Linked DNA regions of Homo sapiens. The protein of the gene in region 1 purifies or fractionates together with the protein of each later gene. This does not show direct contact. Each region holds a gene or a part of one and is shown on either strand. Other genes may lie near its edges.

Region 1 (5,278 bases):
TGGGCCGGAGCCAGGAACTGCCTTCGAGGAGCTTGCCCTGCTCTTCCCTGGGAGATGCGGAGAGAGACCAAGGCTCAGTCCCTTTGGGGAAAGCAGCCCTGGTGATTCCGGGAGCCCAGGCTAGAACCAGAAGGGACAACAAAGGCCCAAGTTCAGGGGTGAGCATGTGATCACGGGGTGAAGAATGGAGCCACAGCCCTGCCCAGAGACCCAAGACTTGCCGGGCAGATAACTGAAGATGGGGGCGAGAAACTTAGCCCCTGTCTTTTTGGAGGAAGCTGGACCCCCACATGCTTCCCCCACCCCAAACCTACCAATCATGACTTTACGTCACTCCCAGGAGTGGCCGCAGCCATGTGGGTTAGTCTGCGCCATCTTCCCAGGTAGAAGGACTGAGTTTGAGTAAATACGGAAGGCAGTCCAGGCAGGGGGGAATGGCCCAGGCAAAGGCCTATGGGGCAGACTGTTCTTGATTTGGGATGGAAATGAGAGGGGTCTCTGGAGGTAACTGGCCTGGGAACCACGAAGTTGGGAGAGCACTGTCTGCTCGGGGCAGTTGCCAGCCATCACAGGACAGCGCCTCGCATTCCCTCTAGTGGTGGAAGTCGGGATGGCGCCACCCCTCCTGGAGCCCTCCTGGAGCCCCGCATCCCTACACCAGGCTTTCCTAGCACCGGGGACCCCTGTCACCAGCAGCTCCACTCACCAGAAGCCTCTCCAAGCGCAGAGAGAACCTGCGCTTTGGAGTCAGACAGACCTGAGCTCCATTCACAGCTCTGAGGTGAGCCATGTGAAGTGGCTTCACCTCTCTGAGCCTGTGCCCTCACTTGTACAGAGGAGAGGTTAAAAAGATCAACTCCACAGGCTGAGTAGGAAAAATAACGGAGATGCCACATGTGAGGCATCAGCCCAGGGCCTGGCAGATGGTCAGAGGCTCAGGAACAGAACCACAAAGGTGGGGAGAACGTGCCTAACTGTGGGCACCACCACACCTGCCCCAAAACACAGTGCCAAGCCCTGGGGGGGGCGCTCGGCCCAGAAGACACAACTTGCAGGCCGGGCGCACTGGTTCACGCCTTAACTCCAGCACTTTGGGAGGCCCAGGCAGGTGGATCACCCGAGGTCAGGAGTTCAAGACGAGCCTGGCCAACACGGTGAAACTGCGTCTCTACTAAAAATACGAAAAAATTGGCTGGGTGTGGTGGTGTGCACCTGTAATCCCAGCTACTCGGGAGGCTGAGGCTGGAGAATCGCTTGAACTCACGAGGCAGAGGATGCAGTGAGCCAAGATCACACCACTGCACTCCAGCCTGGGCGGCAGAGTGAGACTCTGTATCAAAAAGAAGAAGAAGAAGAAGAAGAAGACACAGCTTGCGGGATCCCCCCGTCCACCGCTCTGAGGGCCAGACTCTGGGGCTGGAGTGGGAGGGGTGGGGACTGGTACAGCAGCCTCCCCAGGTCTAATCTGGGTCCTTCTACTCCCAGGGGCTCTTGGTCCCAGAGCCCCAGCACGGTGGGTAGCAGTGGACAATCTCCCTCCCCATGGTGGGAGGAGCACGAATGGGTGGCCCACCCCAGGGGACCAGCCCTCCATACTCACGTCATCAACCTTGGGCTCCGTCACAGGGACCCATTTGTAGATTCGTAGGGATGTGTCACCAACGGTCACCCATTTCTTCTCCCTGAGGAGGATGAGGAAGAGCCTGTTACCGGGGACTCTTCATCCCTGGGGGACACAGGCCACACTCCCTTGGGGCTGAGAGCAAGCTCCAGATCACACAGATGAGGGTTGGAATCCCAGCTCCACCCTCACTAGCGGGAGGCCCTGGGCAGGCCACATCACCCATCTAAGCCTGGTTTCTCCACCCGTTACACCACATAGGGTGGTTGCCCTCTCCAGGCTGTCGCCAAAAAGGCTGAGGGTGGGGCTGCCATTACAAGGACTCCTATGGGTGGCACGAGTCGGGCCCAGGTTCCTCCTGTGTCACTGCCAATGCCACGCAGCCAGTGGACTGGGCCACCCGCGCCTGTCTGGGCAGCAGAGAGGGCTTCAGGCCAGCAGGCCGATTCCTCTCATGGGGGGTGGAGTCGTCACCAAGGACACCCCGGGGCTCCTCCTGCCCTCTGGGCGATGCGTCTGAGGTCAGGGGAGGCATGAGCAGGCAAGCCGGGGAGCCGCCCACACTCTGCCGGAAGAATGCCCTTCGTGGCGGCCAAGGAGAGCCAGGGAGTGGTGACCTCGGCCCGAAAGGAGGTTACACAGCCTGAATGTGTGGGTGCAGCCAGGTGGGAGGGGAACTGCACCCCTGATTCAGGGCTCCTAGTGACCCTGTCTGCAAGGTCACCCCAGCTGCATTACAAACGCCTGAAGGACGGAGTCCAGACCCCCCACTGTGAGAGGCAGGTTTATGGATGAGGAGAAACTTACAAGCCACAGAAGCAAACAGGACTGGTTTTCATTCGAGATAACAATGCCCACCCTCTCCTCCACCACCACCACTCTGCTCCGAGCCACTGTCATTTTTCCGATTATTGCTACAGCCAGCCACCTCCTGTCCTTGACCCCCTGCACTCCGACTTGTCCCTTACCGCCACGAAGACCCAGCAGCCACACCCCTGAGGGGACTGAGGCTCAGGAGAGCCTCCCAGAAGCAGGGCTGGGGTTGGAACCGAGGCTCCTAAATCAAGACTCTGCCAGATCAGGAGACCTGCGAGGCCACCAAGGAGCCACTGATGGCTCAGCTAGGAGGCTGGCGGATTTAAGGGGCCCAGCAGGCACTGTTGGGGCAGGCGCACCCCTGGTACAGGCGACGTAGCTGCCCGAGTCCTCAGCAATTTTGGTGACAAAAATTCCCAGAACTGAGAATTCTGTGTGGCACGAGCACCTCTGTCCGTGAGCTGCCTGGCACCTTTTTTTGGCCTCTCTGCCCAAACTCAGCCTTAGATCACCCCCTCGTGGGGCATGTGGCCCTCACATGCTGGTGTGACAGGTTACAGGACTCCCACCCTGTCACCACGGGGGTTGCGGGATGACGGAGCATACTCAAACCCAGCCAGCCGAAACCACAGACACCTCACCCCCAAAAACCCTGCCCGCTCGGGTCCCACGTGTTCCATCAGAGGACGCTACGGCCCGGCTTTTCTTATTATACCAGTGGCCATTCCTAGCGCCTTCTATGTACCAAGGACTGTGCCGGCTCATCCGGCAGGAAATGGCAACTTCCCCATTTGACAGATAAAGAAACCGAGGCACAGGGCGGTGAAGGTGAACTCATTCTCCCAGAGCCAGCACTCGAACCCTTCACCCAGCACAGCTGTTGAGACCAGCCTCTCTGCTCCCTCCTCCTTGCACCTTTTCACCCAGAAACGATGCAGGAAAGACGAGTGTCTAAGTCCACTGGCCCGTCTCCTGCCTCCTGTGGGCAGAGCAGACAAACCACAATGCCCACCTTTCCCCTCCTCAATTCTGAGCAATCAGAAGGTGTCCAGAAGAGACCGAGTGCTCCTGGGAAGAACCTCAGTTGTTAGAGCAACCATCACAATAGCCACTGTGTGCCCAGGCTATTACATGCCAGGCTCCACGCCAAGCACTCTACTTACACACCCTCTCTCCCTGGGATTCCCAACAGGCTACAAGAGGGGGACGATTGTCACCCTTTTTACAGATGCAGAAACAGGATGCCCAGAGAGGTTATACCACTAGCTTGGGGTCTCACAGACAGGAAGTGGCAGAAGAGAATTAGATTTGGGCTCGGACCCCAGACACCACCTCCTGCTATTCTGTTGGCCATGAAAACCAAGAATCATTCTAAAGGAGCGCCAGGGTAACAGAAGCTGGAGGAAGAATGACAAATTGCCAGGACTCCATGCAGATTGGCCAAAGCCATTCATTACTCATGAGCCCTGGACCAGCTTCCCAGTAAATCAACCCATTCAAGGTTTGATTGTGTTTGGGAAAAAAAAAAAAAAGTAATTGACTTGTAACACACAGGACACCTTTCAGGGCAGAAAGTGTGCCAGAGATCTGGGCTTTGCGGCCGCAAATCAGCCAAGATGCAAGTTTGCAGCTGCTTCCCAGCGAGGCTCGAGGCCACCGCAGGCTACAAGCTGAATGCAGCCAGGCTTTCGTGCCTCTCTTTGCCCCAACTGGCAACCTCTTCACCGAGTTCTCAAGTTACCCCAGTGATGAGAAACTGTATTTCTAGGTGTGGACATTGAGGGGACTCTGGGACAGAGGCAAGAACATTAAGAATTCTACCTCTGAGCTGGACCTATGCTCAGCTAAGCAGCCACCCGGAGGGGCCATGGAGCTCAAGTTTAAGGCACCAAGTGAGCACCCAGGAGGACATGGGATTTCACAGCCACAGACACACTGGGTGGGCACACGGGTTCAGCGGAGCAGCTGAGGTTTCCCACAATTGCCCCCCAAAACCATCACCACAGAACACATACCCCTCCCCAAAAAAGGGCGTTGCTCCTCTTCCCCAATGAGGGTATTAAGCTATACTCATCACTTTCTTATTTTTTTATTTTTTTTATTTTTTTGAGACGGACTCCTGCTCTGTGGCCCAGGCTGGAGTGCAGTGGCACAATCTCGGCTCACTGCAACCTCCGCCTCCCGGGTTCAAGCGATTCTCCTGCCTCAGCCTCCTGAGTAGCTGGGACTACAAGCACATGCCACCACGCCCGGCTAATTTTTGTATTTTTAGTAGAGACGGGTTTCACCATGTTGGCCAGGCTGACATCAAACTCTTGACCTCAGGTGACCCACCCGCCTTGGCCTCCCAAAGTGCTGGAATTACAGGTATAAGCCACTGTGCCCAGCCTATTTGTTATTTTTTTGAGATAAGGTCTCCCTCTGTTGCCCAGGCTGGAGTGCGGTGGTGCGATCACTGCTCACTGCAGCCTCGACCTCCTGGGCTCAAGTGATCTTCCTGCCTTGGCCTCCCAAAATGCTGGGATTACAGGTGTGAGCCACCACACATGGGCCCCACTTTATATTTAGGATGGCAAACAACCAGTCAACAGGCGTGTTTTGTTTGGCCTGCACAGTACTTTAAAAATGTTAAATCTGCTGCCAAACTTCAAACAAACAAACAAACAAACAACAAAACAGGCTTTGCATAAGAATCCAGACTTCTGGCTACTCTTGAAAACATGACCTGGGCCCACATGCCCCAGGGAGCGACAGCTTGCCCCAGATGGGCTCTCTGGCCCCCCTCAGATGCCCTCACTCTTGACACCTGTAAGCACCAGGTGCAGAAATCCCCACAACCAC
Region 2 (5,278 bases), on another chromosome or scaffold:
AGGAAATCTCCTATGAATAAAGTTCATGGTTTTGTGAAATTTATCTTGGTTACTCAGTTTTTTGTTGTTGTTTCTTTTGCAATTCTCAGCTGTTTCTCTAGCAAGAACTTATTTAAGAGCTTTCTTCTGGGGCAGAATTTCTATTAATGTACAGAAATAGGCTGTTTTTAAAGACATTTTTGTCTCAATGTGTTTTCACACCTGTACTTAAGAGAATGTTAATCATCATCTGAATGAAGAACTGACTAGGAGTGAATTCCATCTTGTAGCTATCATAAGCACTCCAAAAGGTCTCGACATGCTATACAAAGTATTTACTGTCTGAGAACTACCCAAGTATACTGGAGTCATCAGGGAAACCCAATGTTCTCTACAGCCTACCACAAGCTACTGGACAGGGCTTCACAGATTCGTTCCTTGAAAACCACTAATGCAATCTGCGCACAACAATACCATACAGGAGCTTCCCCTCACCCCCAAAAGTAATGCATAACTAGGGTCATAGTAAAATCAAAATGCTTTTATTATGGTCAAAATCAGAGCCATTGAGTCCTAACAGCTTAAACTAGATATAGAAAGCAGGGCAAGTAGTGTAAAACCTCCACATTTTCTAGGCCCTTCTTCATATAGCAGTTTGATTATACTTCAATTTGGTGTTAAGAGGACAATAATACAAAGTAAATGTCCACAAAGGACCAAAACACCAAATTTTCCATGTCCAACAACTCTCTATAATTAATCTACTATGTAGCTAGTGTCCACGCCAAATGTTCAGTTCTTAACATTCGCCAAGAAGGAATGGGAAGAAACAGATGAGTGACTTCAGATAGGGAGTACACTTTCTCTTCCTAGTCTCCATCGAACAATCTCACTTTTTTAACTGAGAATCCCCCACAGCTACATCCAAGTTAAGAGCAAAATACTTACACAAAACCAAAAGACAAATTACTGTAATATTATAGTTATCATTTCTATTCCATTAACATAGATAATCAAGAGGTGACTGTATAGAGCTATTAAATGCAATCATTCTTGTTTACTGCCCGTGAAAAAATTGCTGCATTAACATTAAGATCCATGATTGATTCCGTTCATTGTTTAAACTGAAATGTTCTTTATCATTTGAAAACCTTGCCATCCATTACACTTGTGAAACAACATGTTTAGGCCAGGGAAAAACATGTATTGATGCACATAAAAATTGTATGCATTGTGAAATGCATACATACACACACTTTGTCAGAATTCTTTTTCAGATACCATGAAATATGCATGGCACATAAAACTTGATATGCTTATGAAGTACATATTATGCAGAAACAATGAAAAATTTAGACAAACAAAACCTATCAAGCTAAGCAATATGCTTATCAAGATAGACATTCATTTGATAGCTACAAGCTTTCAGTTCCAGCTTGACTACAGGGTGAGAGGGCTTTTTTGAAGTTACATTAATAGAAGGCACTTGTTATTTATGAATACAGCAAACAAAAACCAGGTATTAAAAACTTTACAGCCATTCTGGGTTGTATAAATTCTCACCAACACTACATTCCAATGTAGTATTTGACTTTTGGATTTTTTATCTTTAGTAAGTCATTTTTATAATTATTGGCATTTTTTGGTGCTTAAACTTTTTTGAATGAAATTTAAGATGATTCTAAACTAAAAGATTTGAAGTGTATCATCCAATTTTGATATCTTAGGCTGATCACTTAAATGAAACATGCTAAGTTTCAGAAATCCTATCTCTTATACTAAGGATTAGAAATGCACTTCTCGTTGTACATATCTAGTCTGATACTTCAAATTAATTTCATTCAACCTTCACTCTGCATTTCTTTGAGGTGACATTAAAACGTTTTTCTCTTTTTCACTGTAGAGAAATGAGTCTTAGTTAGAAGGTCAACTACTAAATCCAAAAGACAAATAACTATGGGTAGCGATTCAAACTGGTGTACCAGCCAAAAGCTTTCCAGCCCTGAAAAAGCCAGGTCTGAAAGACCAGCCTCTACTAGAAACTCAATCCTTGAGACTAATGCCAATCACCTTATAAAAATGAAAAATACTCTTTATGTCAAAAAGGATATTTTTACCTTAAGAAATTCTGTTTGTTTACATACAGTATAAGCATCAAGTGCTCAAGGCTTTAACCCTACCAACCACCAAACAGAATGGATTTTTCTTTTCTTCTATATACATTCCAGATCTCACTATTTATTTTTTCAGTGTGAGATGCTACAACGAATGTTGAAAATACTCAAAAAGCTAGGTTAAAAAATTTTTTTTAAATGGCTGTGCTTATGATTCAAAAAGACCTAATTCTGAAGGCATTTCTGGTCAATTCCAGTTGTTTGCCGGATGCTGTAATAGTTGATTCTCCTACCGTGACCCGGCTGTTGGTGCCCGGGTTCCCTCCCAGCCTGTAGTTGTTGTAGGCGAGATGACTGTATGGATTGTATCCCACAAACCCTGGTGTGCTGGGCATTTGCTGATGGAAACAAATGAGACAAAAACACGAATGAGAAATGAGCTCAAACGAGGAAAACACAGAAATGAAAAATGATCTGCATATGGCATGCAAAAGCAACCTGAATTTAAACAAGCAATGATGTGTTGTAATTGTTCTTTTTTTCCACTGAGGAAATTAAATATTTTTCTTTCATTGAGAAACCTGTCTGCAGTGTCTTTTGGTTGTTTTTCTCTTTCTTTTTTGCAGGGGCTGGGGGTGTTTGTGTGACTGTGAATGTGTGTTTTGTTTTTTGAGGTAAGCAACACACTGAAGTGTTTAAAACATTCAGGATTACTTTATGGTCAACAATAGGATAAAACAACTTAGCAATATATGAAGACTGAAATAGGAAGGCTTGAAGTGTGATCAACTAGAACTCTGAAAACACTACATGCAAAACAAAATACAATTTATTTGACATGTGGATGCCACCAATGTATTTATCTACTAAAAACAAAAAAAAGAAATGGATCTGATTTCAACGACAGTTTTAAATCATTTTATATAATGTGAGAAATGAGTAGAGACTCAAATCGGGAAGCCAGGATTTGTCAATTGAAAAGAACATATGTTGGATTTGATGGATGTCACATACATGATTTAAAACAAAGACTTGTAAGAAATGCATGGATTTCATTCTGGGGTACTATCTGATCTTTTTAACCCAGTCATTCTTTTATAGGATTTCTCTTCCATTTCTTCTTTGATCCATCTTCCACTGGTCAATCATGAAAACATTTCTGCATTTTGTCTCAATGTGAACTACTTTTCTAGTTTATAGACTTCTTTTTTCATCTAGTTTCCTGATAGCTCTCACCCTTTCAAAATACAACTGCTCATTTCAGCAACAGAACCCTTGGTTTTTGTGAATTATGTGTTGATGTAATCACAAATGGGCTCTTATATAGCAGTAGCCTTGGGGCTAATACAATGACACTCAATGTTCATGAGAACCAAGGCATAATGCATAGAAAGAATATAGTAGAGAGAGACCAAAATTAGGGTATTTTACCTTGTAAAATTCAATCAAAATATGTGACAATTTCATTTTTACATGCAATTAACAATATCGGTCCTTAATTGTATAATGTAAAATACACTTAACACATTCCAACTAAGCTGTAGCTGTTACAAAATAAACACAATTTCCTAAAACATGCCGCTGCACATATCCTTAGTACCCAAAAGAAAGACATTTAAGCAGATATTACATTTGATACTCTTTAGGAGAAAAGAGAACGGCTGATCAATTTCTAGTCTATACAGTTAGAAAAGACGCAAATAAAGCATATTTAAGTAGGCAAAACACAGTTGAAGTATCAAAGGCATGAAAGAAGTGTATATTACTTGCAGCGGTACATTTGGGTGGCAGAGGTGATAGTGGTGATAGTGTTGGTAGTGGTGGTGATGGTGGTGGTGGTGGTAGAAGTAATGGAAAGAAAAAAGGAAGAAGAATAATTCATTTAGTATCCATTCTGTTGGATGTTTTAATCCCTAGTCTTCTATATTTTGTGTGTTAATGTGAAACTATAATGACACAAAAATATAACTAAAGAAAGGCAAAAAAAATTCCTTTTTATGCATAATAAATTATAAGGGGACACTTGGTTTTTGAAATATTTTAATCTCAAAAAATCAAGTTTGTCAAGATGATGCATTGTCAGAGGCAGTATTTTTGTCAAAATGACACCTTCAAAGGTAGCATAAATAATAAGAATCACTGTTCAACATTATGAGGCAATAATGTTATAAAAATAAGGGAACTAAAAAAAAAAAAATGGAAAGCAAAACATTATAATTATACCATTTCCAAAGCTGAAGTACATGGTTAGCTCTTTGAGGTCAGAATCTCAATTGTTCAGCTCCACCTGTATAGCCACTAGCAGAATGCCATGGAGATGGTCATAACAAATGTTCTTCGATTTAAGAAAGAAAACAAAGCAAGCATAGGACTTTATAGTCTACTGGAATTAACTTTAGAGCCTGTATATGACATAAATTGAAATGAGAACATATGGTACGGTATCTCTTTTCTAAAGTATCTCACTAAAGAAAAACAAATTGTTGATAAATGTAACTAAAATATGTATCTGAGGGTTAGTAAATATGAGTAGTTTTTTAGCGGAGAAAACTAAGTTACACAAGGACCTAATTAGTAGTGAAAAGTAGACTAGCCTGAAATTTAGGTGGTGGGGGTATGGAAGGAAGGATTAATATTAAAGAACTAATTTTGTAGAATTTGGTCATGCTAACAGTGTTTTTTTAAAAACAAACAAAACCCCCCCTCCCAAAAAACCAACAAGGAAGCCATTTCAGCAAGACCTGAACAGTTACTGCTAAATCTGTTTTGTGGGTTGGAAAATTATTTTACATGCTGACCAAGCTGGGCCAGAGCTTCCTGGGTGAAAAAACACGTTCACAACTACTTAAAACATATATACTTCCAAACCAATAAAATATAATTTATGGAGTGGAATAAGATTCAATAGCAAGATCTGCCCCATAGATAATGAAATCTTTACTTGAACAGCTTGAAAATATTTACAATGAGTAGTTTCAGAAGCTTTATTGTTTAATATGAAAATTTTAGAGAGAGACAAGAAAGGAGAGAAAAACATAACCAGTTGAAGGTTAGGTTTAACAAAATAGCCAGAATGAGCATTCACTCAGTAACAACTTAAAGACTCTTAATAGTGAAGATTAATAAGAAAGAAATGGTAAAACTTTCACTTATTTCCCATTTACAAAGAAAAAACAAAACAAACT

What was found. Proteins that work in one complex are often made in the same cells at the same time.
Region 2: the proteins of BCL7A (region 1) and SMARCE1 purify together in Homo sapiens (affinity purification with mass spectrometry; 5 studies listed by BioGRID and IntAct, with this or other methods). This does not show direct contact.

What each region holds. Positions count from the first base shown.
Region 1 is NC_000012.12:122,027,104-122,032,381, reverse strand, and holds part of BCL7A (B-cell CLL/lymphoma 7 protein family member A), read right to left. Parts: intron 1,683-5,278; coding exon 1,601-1,682; intron 1-1,600.
Region 2 is NC_000017.11:40,640,069-40,645,346, forward strand, and holds part of SMARCE1 (SWI/SNF-related matrix-associated actin-dependent regulator of chromatin subfamily E member 1), read right to left. Parts: intron 2,492-5,278; coding exon 2,387-2,491; intron 1-2,386. UniProt on the Homo sapiens protein: Involved in transcriptional activation and repression of select genes by chromatin remodeling (alteration of DNA-nucleosome topology).